4 linked regions of the Homo sapiens genome follow. The protein of the gene in region 1 interacts with the protein of each later gene in a biochemical or structural test. Each region holds a gene or a part of one and is shown in the gene's direction. Other genes may lie near its edges.

The links. Proteins that work in one complex are often made in the same cells at the same time.
Region 2: of the proteins of PRKAA1 (region 1) and PPP2CA, one has a biochemical effect on the other in vitro, tested with the Homo sapiens proteins (one study listed by BioGRID).
Region 3: of the proteins of PRKAA1 (region 1) and SLC31A1, one has a biochemical effect on the other in vitro, tested with the Homo sapiens proteins (one study listed by BioGRID).
Region 4: the proteins of PRKAA1 (region 1) and USP10 form a complex in vitro, tested with the Homo sapiens proteins (one study listed by BioGRID).

The regions. Positions count from the first base shown.
Region 1 is NC_000005.10:40,791,517-40,795,662, reverse strand, and holds part of PRKAA1 (5'-AMP-activated protein kinase catalytic subunit alpha-1), read left to right. Parts: intron 1-4,146. UniProt on the Homo sapiens protein: Catalytic subunit of AMP-activated protein kinase (AMPK), an energy sensor protein kinase that plays a key role in regulating cellular energy metabolism.
Region 2 is NC_000005.10:134,195,074-134,198,573, reverse strand, and holds part of PPP2CA (serine/threonine-protein phosphatase 2A catalytic subunit alpha isoform), read left to right. Parts: intron 1-729; coding exon 730-802; 3' UTR 803-3,500. UniProt on the Homo sapiens protein: Catalytic subunit of protein phosphatase 2A (PP2A), a serine/threonine phosphatase involved in the regulation of a wide variety of enzymes, signal transduction pathways, and cellular events.
Region 3 is NC_000009.12:113,256,044-113,259,543, forward strand, and holds part of SLC31A1 (high affinity copper uptake protein 1), read left to right. Parts: intron 1-70; 5' UTR 71-105; coding exon 106-234; intron 235-411; exon of another isoform or gene 412-560; intron 561-1,069; coding exon 1,070-1,142; intron 1,143-2,650; coding exon 2,651-2,819; intron 2,820-3,500.
Region 4 is NC_000016.10:84,706,500-84,709,999, forward strand, and holds part of USP10 (ubiquitin carboxyl-terminal hydrolase 10), read left to right. Parts: intron 1-3,500. UniProt on the Homo sapiens protein: Hydrolase that can remove conjugated ubiquitin from target proteins such as p53/TP53, RPS2/us5, RPS3/us3, RPS10/eS10, BECN1, SNX3 and CFTR.

The DNA.
Region 1 (4,146 bases):
GTAAAGAACTTATCTGTGGTTCTCTTTCCACAGATAAGTCCTTCCAGCAGGGAAGGCCAGCATATCTCTTATGAGTCTCATTGGCTCATCCAGTCCCTCTGGCTAGGAATGCCATGTGCCAGTTGGCTTATGCTTGTATTCCTAAGCAGGCATTAGCAAGGGGGATGGCATTGCCCTTGGAGGAGTATGACCCACCCTTTGATGTGTGTGTGCAACAGAGGTGGGTGGGTGGGAGACATCTTTTTTTTAAAATTTGTTTTATTTTTTAAATTTTTCTTTAAGTTATTGGGGTACAGATGGTATTTGGTTGCATGAGTAAATTCTTTAGTGGTGATTTGTGAGATTTTGGTGCACCCATCACCTGAGCAGTATACATTGCATCATATTTGTAGTCTTTTATCCCTCACCCCTCTCCCACTCTTCCCCCTCAAGTCCCCATAGTCCACTGTATCATTCTTATGCCTTTGCGTCCTCATAGCTTAGCTCCCACATATCAGTGATTAGAACATACTGTGTTGGTTTTCCATTCCTGAGTTACTTCACTTAGAATAATAGTCTCCACTCTTATCCAAGTCACTGCAAATGCTGTTAATTCATTCCTTTTTATGGCTGTGTAGTATTCCATTTTGTGTGTGTGTGTGTGTGTGTGTGTGTATATATATGTATACACCACAGTTTCTTTATCCATACATTGAGTGATGGGCATTTGGATTGGTTCCACGATTTTGCAATTGTGAATTGTGCTGCTATAAACATGCATGTGCAAGTATCTTTTTCGAATAATGACTTCTTTTCAGAAGAGATTGCTGGATCAAATGGTAGTTCTACTTTTAGTTCTTTAAGGAATATCTACACTGTTTTCCATAGCAGCTGTGCTAGTTTACATTCCCACCAGCAGTGTAGAAGTGTTCCCTGTTCACCCTTTTCAACAAATTGTGCTGGGATAATTGGCCAGCCACATGTAGGAGAATGAAACTGGATTCTCATCTCTCAACCTTATATAAAAATCAACTCAAGATGGATTAAGGACTTAAACCTAAGACCTGAAACTATAAAAATTCTAGAAGATAACATTGGAAAAACCCTTCTAGACATTGGCTTAGGCAAGGATTTAATGACTAAGAACCCAAAAGCAAATGCAATAAAAACAAAGATAAATAGATGGGACCTAATTAAATTGAAGAGCTTTTGCACAGGAAAAGGAACAGCAGAGTAAACAGACAACCCACACAGTGGGAGAAAATCTTCCTAATCAATACATCTGAAAAAGTACTAATATCCAGAATCCACAATGAACTCAAACAAATAAGTAAGAAAAAACAAATAGTCCCATCAAAAAGTGGGCTAAGGATATGAATAGACAGTTCTCAAAAGAAGATATACAAATGGCCAGCAAACATGAAAAAATGCTCAGCATCCCTAATGATCAGGGAAATGCAAATCAGAACCACAATGTGATACCACCTCACTCCTGCAAGAATGGCCATCATCAAAAAATCAAAAAGCAGTAGATAGATTTTAGTGTGCATGTGGTGAACAGGGAACACTTTTTTTTTTTTTTGGAGACAGTTTTGCTCTTGTCACCCAGGCTGGAGTGCATTGGCGCAATCTCAGCTCATTGCAACCTCTGCCTCCCAGGTTCAAGTGATTCTTCTGCCTCAACTTCCCTAGTAGCTGGGATTACAGACGTGTGCCACCACGTCCTGCTAATTTTTGTATTTTTAGTAGAGATGGGGTTTCATCATGTTGGCCAGGCTGGTCTTGAACTCCTGACCTCAGGTGATCCCACCCGCCTCGGCCTCCCAAAGTGCTGGGATTACAGGCCTGAACCACCGTGCTGGGCTGGGAGACATCTTCTAAGTACTTGGATAGTGTGGGGGGACAGGGTAGACACCTACACATAAATGGATGTTGTTAGGAGAGAGAAAGGGGGACATGGATACTCAGTGAACACACAGAAATGGCCACTATTGTGGTGATGTTGGTAATTAAACACCAACAGCCTTAATTATGCAAGAATTCTTGCAAATAATAGGGTTAACCATATGTTTAGACAATTTGGAGTAAAGAAAGCTTTAAAAATTACTTATACATATTGGTAAATTTAACATGAAGAGGGATCTAATAAAATATATGATATTGATATGCAGAAAAAGTCTAAGTATGATATTCCATGCTTATAGGAAATTTAATTTTGCGGGGAGAGTAGGCTGGAAGTTCGGAGTGATTGTTTCCTGTTACAGGCCAAAAAATTTGTTTGGTTACTTAGTGGTAGCATTTTGAGAGGAAAGTTTACAGAAAACTAGGGTTATTTTGTGATTATGCTTGAATTGTCTTTATTGTTTCCAAGGCATCTTTTTTTTTTCCTTCTAGTTATCAAGATGTTAGGTTCTGTGCCCTTGTGGGCCTTCCCTCTGCCCAAAAAAAGCATGGATGAGCAGAGTAATATCATTAAAATGGCAGTCTTTGTTAGTTTTTCTAGAGAAGATGGTCTCTTTGGTAGGCTGGGTGTATCTTCGGCAAATGAGTTATTTATACATATAAACTATTAAGTTGGCAAGTATTTCTTTTTTTTCTTTTTCTTTTTTTTTTTTTGAGATGGAGTTCCACTCTTGTCGCCCAGGCTGGAGTGCAATGGTGCGATCTCAGCTCACTGCAACTTCCACCTCCCGGGTTCAAGCGATTCTCCAGCCTCAGCCTCCCAAGTGGCTGGGATTATAGGCGCCCACCACTACGCCCAGCTATTTTTTTTTTGTATTTTTAGTAGAGATGGGGTTTCACCACGTCGGCCAGGTTAGTCTCGAACTCCTGACCTCAGGTGATCCACCCACCTCAGCCTCCCACAGTGCTGGGATTACAGGCATGAGCCACCATGCTTGGCCTAAGTTCGTAAGTATTTCTGTGTAAAACTGCAATTTCAGCTACATAGGTACTTTGTGAATGAATCATAGTAGAAGTTATTTAAAAATTCCTTTAAGTAAAAATTATAAACATGAACTAGAGCTATATATATCAGTGTGAATGAATCTTAAAAATATAAGGTTAGACCTCGAAAGCAAGTTGTATAAGAATATGTATAGTTTGCTGTTATTTATATAAATTTTAGAAACCTACAGAACCACTCATACAATGCTGGTAGAGTATAAATTGGTATCCTACCTCTACATGAGAGAGTGACAGCATTTATTAAAATTAACCTAACAATTCAACTTCTAGGAATTATTTTATAGATGTACTCGTGTATGAAATAATGGGTTATTCGCTGCCATATTGTTGTAAATATTAATACAAAACTTTCGAAGTAACCTTTCTAATAGTAATAGTTATGGTTTATCCATATAGTGAAATACCTTGCAAACATTAAGGAAGAAAAAGGGAGGAACTTTGTATATTTTAGAGAACAATTTCCAAGGTGTATTTTTAAGAGGAAAAAGTAGAACAGTGTGTTCAATATGCCTACCACTTATGTATAAAAGGCAGGGGCAAATCTGTATCTTAAATGTGACTGCTTTTATATATAGAGTATGTCTCTTTAAAGATACACACAAGACTGGTTACGTTAGTTGCTCAGTATAGGGGACTAGGTAAAGGAGGACATTGTGTTGCACCATAGATGCTTTTGTACTTTTGAACTGTGTGTATAGTGCAGGTATTGTGTTATCAAAATATATGCAATGACATTTGTAAAAATAAATATGAAAAATAATGTTACTATATTTTTTATGGATTCCTACCCATGTAAAAATATTTAAACGTGGGAAACACAAACACCAAATTCAGGATAGTGGTTACTTCTGAGGACAGATGAAGGATAAGGGAATCTGGGAGGAGTCATGCAGGGCTTGAGTTGTATTTGTAATGTTTTATTGCTTAAGCTGATGGTGGCTCATGGGTATTTGGAATGCCCTTGGTGTGCTTGAAATGTTTGTTTGCTTTCTTAAATTACGATCTATAGCTTTTAAAGCCCACCCTTCCCCAGGATTAAGCTATTTCCTTAACACGTTTTTATTCTTTCAATTTTAAAGTGGGAATGAAATGGTTAGGTGTCTAGAATATCTTTAGTAGATATTTCTATCTTTGCTGCTTCTCTGTCCTATTAAAATCCTCTGTTTCAAAGTATGATCTTGTTTCCCTTCAGGATTATAT
Region 2 (3,500 bases), about 93 Mb from region 1:
TTATTAAGGGATTATGCTATGTCAGATTCCAACTTTTATTTTTAAGTTTTGTTTTTTTTTTAATGGATCTACATTGAAACACACCAACAGGAACTTATTATATATAGATCTTCGTATGAATTACTAGGTTTTTCACTTTTAAAACCATGTTTTGTGTTTTTTTGTTGTTTGTTTGTTTTTTGAGACGGAGTCTCACTCTGTCACCCAGGCTGGAGTGCAGTGGTGCGATCTTGGCTGACTGCAAGCTCTGCCTCCCGGGTTCACACCATTCTCCTGCCTCAGCCTCCCGAGTAGCTGGGATTACAGGCGTCTGCCACCACGCCCGGCTAATTTTTTTGTATTTTTTTAGTAGATATGGGGTTTCACCGTGGTAGCCAGGATGGTCTTGATCTCCTGACCTCGTGATCCGCCCGCCTCAGCCTCCCAAAGTGCTGGGATTACAGGCGTGAGCCACTGCGCCCGGCCAACCATGTTTTGTTTTGTTTTGTTTGAAATTTCAGTCAAGGTAAAAACCATGTTTTTATAAAAGCATAGTCTCTGTGGCTGAAGTTGCCTTGACTCTTTCAAGGGGAGTACAGTTAACAGACCATTATCATTAAGGTTCTGTTACATTAAGACAAGCCAAAATTGAATAGGAAGTGTAAAGTTTGGAAGACTCATGTTCTTGATCTTGATTGTCACTACATGGAGGTCGTGGAACATAAACCATGAATCGGTCTTGTTTTTCAGCTTGCAGTTTGACCCAGCACCTCGTAGAGGCGAGCCACATGTTACTCGTCGTACCCCAGACTACTTCCTGTAATGAAATTTTAAACTTGTACAGTATTGCCATGAACCATATATCGACCTAATGGAAATGGGAAGAGCAACAGTAACTCCAAAGTGTCAGAAAATAGTTAACATTCAAAAAACTTGTTTTCACATGGACCAAAAGATGTGCCATATAAAAATACAAAGCCTCTTGTCATCAACAGCCGTGACCACTTTAGAATGAACCAGTTCATTGCATGCTGAAGCGACATTGTTGGTCAAGAAACCAGTTTCTGGCATAGCGCTATTTGTAGTTACTTTTGCTTTCTCTGAGAGACTGCAGATAATAAGATGTAAACATTAACACCTCGTGAATACAATTTAACTTCCATTTAGCTATAGCTTTACTCAGCATGACTGTAGATAAGGATAGCAGCAAACAATCATTGGAGCTTAATGAACATTTTTAAAAATAATTACCAAGGCCTCCCTTCTACTTGTGAGTTTTGAAATTGTTCTTTTTATTTTCAGGGATACCGTTTAATTTAATTATATGATTTGTCTGCACTCAGTTTATTCCCTACTCAAATCTCAGCCCCATGTTGTTCTTTGTTATTGTCAGAACCTGGTGAGTTGTTTTGAACAGAACTGTTTTTTCCCCTTCCTGTAAGACGATGTGACTGCACAAGAGCACTGCAGTGTTTTTCATAATAAACTTGTGAACTAAGAACTGAGAAGGTCAAATTTTAATTGTATCAATGGGCAAGACTGGTGCTGTTTATTAAAAAAGTTAAATCAATTGAGTAAATTTTAGAATTTGTAGACTTGTAGGTAAAATAAAAATCAAGGGCACTACATAACCTCTCTGGTAACTCCTTGACATTCTTCAGATTAACTTCAGGATTTATTTGTATTTCACATATTACAATTTGTCACATTGTTGGTGTGCACTTTGTGGGTTCTTCCTGCATATTAACTTGTTTGTAAGAAAGGAAATCTGTGCTGCTTCAGTAAGACTTAATTGTAAAACCATATAACTTGAGATTTAAGTCTTTGGGTTTTGTTTTAATAAAACAGCATGTTTTCAGGTAGAGCTTAAACTAAATGATGTGTTTACTTAGTGCAGTTTCTGGTTATGAATATTATATTGCTATGTGTATATTATATGGACTCTTTAAAATGATTGACAGATTGGCAAATTCTTAAATCTTTGTACATTGTTGAGTCATATGTTCTTAGAGTTAAATTTGTCTCAGATAAGAAAGTGTTAAAGCATTAGCCTGTGTCAAGTTCTTTGAGTGATACTAGTGAAACCAAATAGAAAACTATTGTTGGATCATGATTTAGTCTTATGTACATTCACCCGAAGACAAAAATGGTACTTAAAGTGGCAGTGTTCAACATTTAATGAGTTTTTCCCCTTTTATCCTTCGAATAGGATTAGATGTTTAAAAAAAAGTTCTTCTGTGGGAACTAATATTTGATATTTTAACCTACCAGAGTAAACAGGAACACTTAATCATACTTGTGAGTGTAGTAAATAAAAGTTTTCTTGCTTTGTGCTGTGTTGAATCTGGAACCAACAGGGAAGTTATAGCATATCCCCTTTCTAAAATGCTTGAGGAACACATACATACCGAATGTCTTTTCTGATCTAATTGATAGTATTTTTAGTGGCTTGTGGAGTTAATTTTCCAAAGCAAAAGGCCATTAGGGTTTCTACATTTCATTTCATTTCATTCTTTTCTTTCACAAGAAATACATTCTCTGTGTGTCTTTTTGTTGCTCTGTCACTCTATGCCCTTTCTCTCCGACTGAACAAATAGCTTATCCATGTGCAGTGGTTTTAATACCCAAACAATCTAGACACCAAGCAGCTATTTTTTCCGGTCCTGTGATATCAGAATTGACCAAGGAATACGTATATTGTAATTGACACGTGGTGGTATCTTCCAGGTACAAATTCTCTAAATTTTGTGGTTAGCAGAATGGGACTTGTGATAAGAATAGCTTGGTTTTAGCATAACTAGGGTTTAAAATAATTGTTTAATTATAGAGACTGACCGGGCTTTGGCCATCTAAACTGGAAAGTGTTAGTACCCTACCTTCTTTTGAAAATGGCTATGGTAAGGAAAATGTGTTAGTAAATTATGTATTTTCTTGAAAAATACATAATTATGGTTGGATGGGAATCACTAAGTTGGGTGTTAACTGATGTCTCAATTAGTAACATTAGGATTTTCATTAATAAACCTAAAAAGCTTTCCCTAAGAACAGGCCTGGCACAGTGGCTCATGCCTGTAATCCCAGCACTTTGGGAGACCAGGGTGGGTGGATCCCTTGAGGTCAGGAGTTGAAGAGCAGCCTGGCCAACATGGCAAAACCCCATCTCTACAAAAAATATGAAAATCAGCCGGGCTTGGTGGCATACCATAGTCCCAGCTACTTGGGAGGCTGAGGTGAGAGGATCGCCTGAGCCCAGGAGATGGAGGTTGCAGTGGGCTGAGATTGTGCCACTGTACTCCAGTCTGGGTGACAGAGCCAGACCCTGTCTCAAAAATAAAGAGGATTCTGAGTTTGTATAGTGAGGGCTTGCAGAAATTTTGAAACTTATTTTGTAAGTTTACAATGAATTTGTACATGATGTGCTCATGTCTTGGGTTGAGTATCCTAGACATGATTTTTTCATTTGCTGCATATTAAACATTTGTTGGTTGTAGTCGGTATTTCTTAAATAGAAGTTTGTCAAT
Region 3 (3,500 bases), on another chromosome or scaffold:
CTAAAAATAAAAAAAAGAGATAAGATTTTTATATCCTTAAATTATTATATATAATTCTTTCTCTTAAAAGAATCTTCTGCTGACTCTCAACTTTTCCTGGAAAAAATGGATCATTCCCACCATATGGGGATGAGCTATATGGACTCCAACAGTACCATGCAACCTTCTCACCATCACCCAACCACTTCAGCCTCACACTCCCATGGTGGAGGAGACAGCAGCATGATGATGATGGTGAGTGCCATAGGAGGGGCAATGCAGGCCCTTTCCCACCCACTTGGGTAATAGAAATAATGGAATTTTAGTACTGGAAGCTTATTATCTTTAAAGGTCAGTTTACCAGTGAGGATAACTAAAGCAGACCCAAGCAAGTCAAGTCATTTGCTCCAGATTATGTGGCAAGCTACTTACAGAGTCACACCAGAACCAAGATTTTAGGCTTCTTTCTTTGGTGGTCCCTTCTGAAATCGACTCTTTTCTGAATTAGGGGTTCTGGTCTTTATGCCTTGGGTGGAAAAGAGAAAAAGACAAAAGTTGGCCAGGCACAGTGGCTCATGCCTGTAATCCCAACACTTTGGGAGGCCAAGGCAGGTGGATCACAAGGTCAGGAGATCGAGACCATCCTAGCTAACACGGTGAAACCCCATCTCTACTAAAAATACAAAAAATTAGCTGGGCATGATGGCATTCGCCTGTAGTCCCAGCTACTTGGGAGGCTGAGGCAGGAGAATCGCTTGAACCCAGGAGGTGGAGGTTGTAGTGAGCCGAGATCTCGCCACTGCATTCCAGCCTGGGCTACAGAGCGAGAATCCGTATCAAAAAAAAAAAAAAAAAAGATAAAAGTTGATGGTGGGGGCCCAGGAGAAAAGTTGATGGTGGGGGCCTAGTAGAATACTCATGCTCGGTGCCTGTGGTGGTAACGCTAACATGAGGGCAAAAGCCTCCCACTCACGTGAATGTCTCTTATTATCCAGATCTTCTACTTTTAAATGTTCTAAGCTTCTTTGCCCCAAATTCTCATTTAGAATTTTCATTCATCTCTAACTGACTTGTTTTGGTTTTCTGGCAGCCTATGACCTTCTACTTTGGCTTTAAGAATGTGGAACTACTGTTTTCCGGTTTGGTGATCAATACAGCTGGAGGTGAGTAAGCCATTAGGTAGTGTTGGAAGGTGATAGTCACATGAGAGACAGTGACAAATAATTTGGAAGTCCAGCACCTCTTTCTGTCCTAATTACTAAGTCAACATGGTAATGATGCATAACCATCTTGGTTCCTATTTCCTACCTAGAAGGTAGGAAACACAGTACTTTTTTGGTCCTCTGGTAAACCTCTGTTAACTAACATGTATGTTTTGGAGCTCTAAAAAATAATTTAGATACCAGATAGAATCTTTTGCAATCCATTTTCTTTCATTCTTTTCCAGAGTGTTTAATTTTTTTTTTTTTTTTTTTTTTTGAGACGGAGTTTCACTCTTGTCACCCAGGCTGGAGTGCAATGGCAGCTATCTTGGCTCACTGCAATCTCTGCCTCCCAGGTTCAAGCGATTCTCCTGCCTCAGCCTCCTGAGTAGCTGGAGTTAAACAGGCACCTACCGCCATGCCTGGCTAATTTTTGTATTTTTAATAGAGACGGGGTTTTGCCATGTTTGCCAGGCTGGTCTCGAACTCCTCACCTCAAGTGATCCACCCACCTCAGCCTCCCAAAGTGCTGGGATTACAGGCATGAGCCACCATGCCCGGCCTCAGAGTGTTTACTTATTTGATAAGTTATTAGTCCTGGACATAAGACTAACTCAAATTAAGTACCACAAAATAAGTTTAAAACTATTGTTCTAATACTTCAATTTTACAATAAATTAAGTGCCACAAATTGTGAAATGACTCGCCATCAATCATAGAGTTAATATGTCAGAGCTAGGACAAGGACCCAGACCTTCTAGAGCTACCTAGACCAGTGTTCTTTTAGTCTACCAAACTATGGCCCACATCCTTCCTGATTCTTGGCACGGCCCATCTTAGACACTCCTAGTTTTGAGGTAGATGATTACCCATCTGTTTGTGTCTATTATGTTGTATGGTATACTTTAAATTTAACTTGCGCAAACTCAATAGTCAGTTGGACTGCCTTAGGTACCAGATGTCTGTTTGGAGCCATAAAATCAATTTGTTTTGGGAAGAAGGAGAGCATTTAGTTCAGGTAATGTGTTAAATTAGCAGTTTGAATACATTTATATCATTACCAACACTTCACAGTGTGAAAGACTTAGAATTGAAATGCCTATTCAGGAAATGTAGTCAGCCACTGATGAAACTAAATTGTTTTATTCCCTGTTCCATATTCTACATTGTGTGTTTCAGTGTAACAAACCTAATTTAATGATATCAAGCAGTCTGACCAAAAGGTTATTGTTGTTCTGATTATTTTTCTTATCTTAATCAGAAAGTAAATATGTTCTTGGCAGAGGCAATAGTTTTCAGTTACACCATCTTAGCCGTTCTCCTATCTGAGCAAGAGAAGAGGTAAAAATATAATGTCTTCAAAAGCTGAGAGTAGCATTTTTTCTATGTGTCTTTCTAGCTGGACAGCACATTGGCTAATGATTTTGCACATGTTTGACAGTACCTCCATATTTTCCTTCCATACTTAGAAATGGCTGGAGCTTTTGTGGCAGTGTTTTTACTAGCAATGTTCTATGAAGGACTCAAGATAGCCCGAGAGAGCCTGCTGCGTAAGTCACAAGTCAGCATTCGCTACAATTCCATGCCTGTCCCAGGACCAAATGGAACCATCCTTATGGAGACACACAAAACTGTTGGGTAAGAACTGAACAGATCCAGATGAAGTCCTAAAGAACTCGATCAGTTAAGCAGCAAAGCGCAGCTGTGTGATCAGCAGCAGCCCTCTTCTTGAGTTAGGAGTTCTGTATGACCTTGATCAAAACTGTCCTTGGAGGTTTGGGTTTGTAGGTCATGAGCAGGCCAAAGGAGGAATGAGAGGGAGTCTTCTGCAAATATGAATGTTTGTTCTGAGTTGTACGGATTGGCCACTTTGGAAGAAGGGAAGTGAGGAATCCATATTTTAAAATATTTACCAAAATAATAATGAACAAGTTAAGAAATTCAGATCAAGATATAAAAGAATGGCAGATTGCAGTTGATTCTATAAAGTTACACCTAGTCAGCCCTGTCCTCTTTTTCTTTACAATGTAAGACTGTATTGATTTCTGTGTTCTGTCTAAGAAAGTATTTGGATGATTATTGGTTTTTCCCATAGATTGGCAAATGTTTTTTGAGATTGTTTTAATAAAAATGTAAGTCTTAAAACCAAATTGGACCTTAAGAAATCCTATAGACTGATATCCTGCTTTCAAACAAGCAGTGTTATTTATTGTACTGATGAGCTTACTGGGGCCCAGAAGGATTGTGACCTACCTAAGGTGGCACAGGGGATGAGTAGCCAGGTCTCCTTATCCCTAATTAAGTAATTTCTTCTATACT
Region 4 (3,500 bases), on another chromosome or scaffold:
GTATTTATATTTATTTATATTTTTATATTTATATATATTTTTATATATATATATTTTTTGAGACGAAGTCTTCCTCTGTCACCCAGGCTGGAGTGCAGTGGCGCAATCTCGGCTCACTGCAAGCTCCGCCTCCCGGGTTCACGCCATTCTCCTGCCTCAGCCTCCGGAGTAGCTGGGAATACAGGTGTGCGCCACCACGCCCAGCTAATTTTTTGTATTTTTAGTAGAGACGGGGTTTCACGGTGTTAGCCAGGATGGTCTCCATCTCCTGACCTCGGGATCTGCCCACCTCGGCCTCCCAGAGTGCTGGGATTACAGGCGTGAGCCACCGCGCCGGGCCAAGACTATATATATATTTATTCAAGACCTGAAGTAGGCTTTCTGGGTAGATCTGATCATTGGAGAAGGAGAAACATATTTATTACGAGATACTAAGCATTGTAGTAGTCATCATTTGAAGCCTATAAACTCTATAAACTGCATAGTTTAGAAAGTGCCTTAGCTTGTTTGAGCCTTTACAGCAACTCTGTCCTGTATTATTATAACCATTTTACAGATGAGTAAGATAAGACCCAGAGAGGTTGTGGCTTGAGGTCAAATGGCTGCTGGCCATCAGGACCTTTTAAAAGCAGGTGTTTTGACTTCTAAATCCTTTGCTTTTTCTACTTTGCCAGACTGGTTTTCTGGAAGAGACTGATGAAGGCATAATCTTTCACACTGTGACTTCCCCTTAGTAGTTCCTCCATAAACATTTACAGAATGAATGAATGAAATGTGCATTTAGAAACTTTAATGTTACTAATTACAAAATTTGTTACTATAATATGTTACTATTCACTAAAGTTTGTGTGGGGTACATTTTAATAAAGTCGTTTATTTTATTTTCTAGTATAAAGACATGCTATTTTTAAGACACGAAAACAGCACAGACGTATTTAAAGTGAAAAGTAGAAGTCATTCCCTTCCTCTCTGATCCTTAATCGTCAGTTTGGTGTGTGTCTTCTATGCTTTTTTCCACTGGAGTATTTTGTTGTTGTTGTTCCGTTGTTTCATAATATGGTCTGTTGTATCTAGTCACTGAACTTTATTGAGCAAACCTTGTTTTCAAAATTATTGAAAACATCCACTGAAGTCAGTTTTCTTAGGTTTACCTAATTTTGCCAGGGAATGAAGCAGATATTCTGGAGATTGAAGTGACTTATCAGGATCCAGTGTGCAGGGGATTGTGGAAGTGCTGCCACAACTTATAACATGTTGTCCAAACAATTTTTTTTTTTCTTAAGAAATATTTTGGGCCAGGTGCAGTGAGTGACTCACGCCTGTAATCCCAGCACTTTGGGAGGCTGAGGCAGGCGAATCACTCAAGCTCAGGAGTTTGGGACCAGCCTGGGCAACGTAGCAAAACTCTTTCTCTACAAAAATACAAAAATTCACTGGGCATGGTGGTGCTCTCCTGTAGTCCCACCTACTTGGGAGGTTGAGGTGGGAGGATCGCTTGAACCTGGGAGGTGGACATTGTAGTGAGTCGAGATTGTGCCACTGCACTTCAGCTTGGGTGACAGAGCGAGACTCTTACGTCAAAAAAGAAAAGATAAGAAATATTTTGAAGACTTCCACCCCCTTAGTAGTAGTCATGCTGTCCGGTGTTCATAGTGTAAAAAGAGGTCTGGCTGGGCGTGGTGGCTCACGCGTGTAATCCCAGCACTTTGGGAGGTCGAGGTGGGTGGATCACCTGAGGTCAGGAGTTTGAGACCATCCTGGCCAACATGGTAAAACCTCATCTCTGCTAAAAATACAAAAATTAGCCGAGTGTGGTGGCGGGCACCTTTAATCCCAGCTGCTCCGAAGGCTGAGGCAGGAGAATAGCTTGAACCCGTGGGGGCAGAGGTTGCTGTGAGACAAGATCACGCCACTTCACTCCAGCCTGGACGAAAGAGTGAAACTCCATCTCAAAAAACAAAAAAGGAGGTCTGATTCACATTCAGATTCTTGTCCATCCATTGCCTTTGCACTAGATTTATGAGAGGACAAACTTTTTATTAGTTGGAGATTGGTAAGTCACCTGCCCTAGGGAATAATGAGAAACTGGGTAATTCACCTGAATTTTTCTCCATCTTCTTCAAAATCATGTTTTTGTCTTCTGTCACTTTGTTTCATCAGAGTACTGCAATGGCAAAAAACAAAACACTTCCCAACTCAGGTCCCACTCCTGAGAGATAACCACATTTAAGTACTTCTGACTTGTAATAGAATGCAAAATCGGGGCTTCCAAGTGTGGTTTACTATTTTGTTTAGAATTAATTTGTAGAATACTAGACACTTTTTTCAGAACCACATATGAAGGACTTTATATCTTTTGTGATTGTTCACAGATTTTGGTGGCCGGACGTTAGGAGTATAGAGCTGAAGAGAGAATTCCTGTGCTTTAGAGGTTCGCTGGGTAGTGAGGGAGAGAAGCAGGCTAATGGCTGGGTGCATCCAGTTTTAGGGTGGTAATTCCTGTAACACAAGTGTGAACAACATAGTCAAGAACATTCATTCATTCGTTTGTTCATTCATTCAGCAAATAGTTACCGAGTGGCTGCTGTGTACCAGGCACTGAGGAGGGAGTGATGAGCGAAAACAGGCATTGTTTCTCTCGCGGAGGAGTTTATGGGTCCATTGAGGAAGACAGCTTGCTAATCAGATAATCACAGTTACGTACACGTCACTCCAAACTGAGAGATGTTTCCCAAAGGAAGGGAACACAATCTGAAGTCAGAGAACCGTTCCCGTGGAAGTGACGTGTTTACAGCATGAGACAGTGGGGACAGCATGTGTGGTGGACCTTTGGCTGGAGGGAATTTGGAGCACTTTGGAGAACTCAGCAAGGAGTTGTGTGTCTTGGGCACAGAGCTGGAGGGGAGGGACAGACGCACCATCCAACCTTGCAGCCTTTGTTAGATGTTACTGTCTTTATTCTGAGAAAAGTGTGGAAGAGGGGGTGGTACAACATTTGACCATGGAACCTCATAATCACATTGCCTTTTGGGATCATACTCTGCCCAGTGAAGAATAGACTCACGGGGTCGCAGTGGCCATAAGGAGATCATTTAGGGCAGGGTCCTTGGACTTTTGACTCGGAGGGTGCCGTGGAGGTGGAGAGAAGTTGCGTGACTCAGGAGTTAGGTATAAGGTGTTTCAAAAAAGGAGGAGAGTGGGACTGAATGTTGGGCAAAGCTGGGAAGACGTCTCTTGTAGAACGGTGACATTTGAGCTGGAGTTTTTCAGGCAGAGAAGCACACGGACAAGGGCATGTGGAGGAGACTGTGCAGAGGAACTGTCTCAAAGCCTGCAGCCTGTTTGGGAAACAGATAAATTTGTGGCTGAAATGGTGTGTAGGGTGAAGTGGTTAGCCGGGAGTCTGGAGAGGAGAGAGAAAGAATTTGGTAATCCAAGCTCAGGACTGAGTGAAGTTGGTAGCAACTCTGTGTTAAGATAGCTGGTTGAGGCCGGGTGCG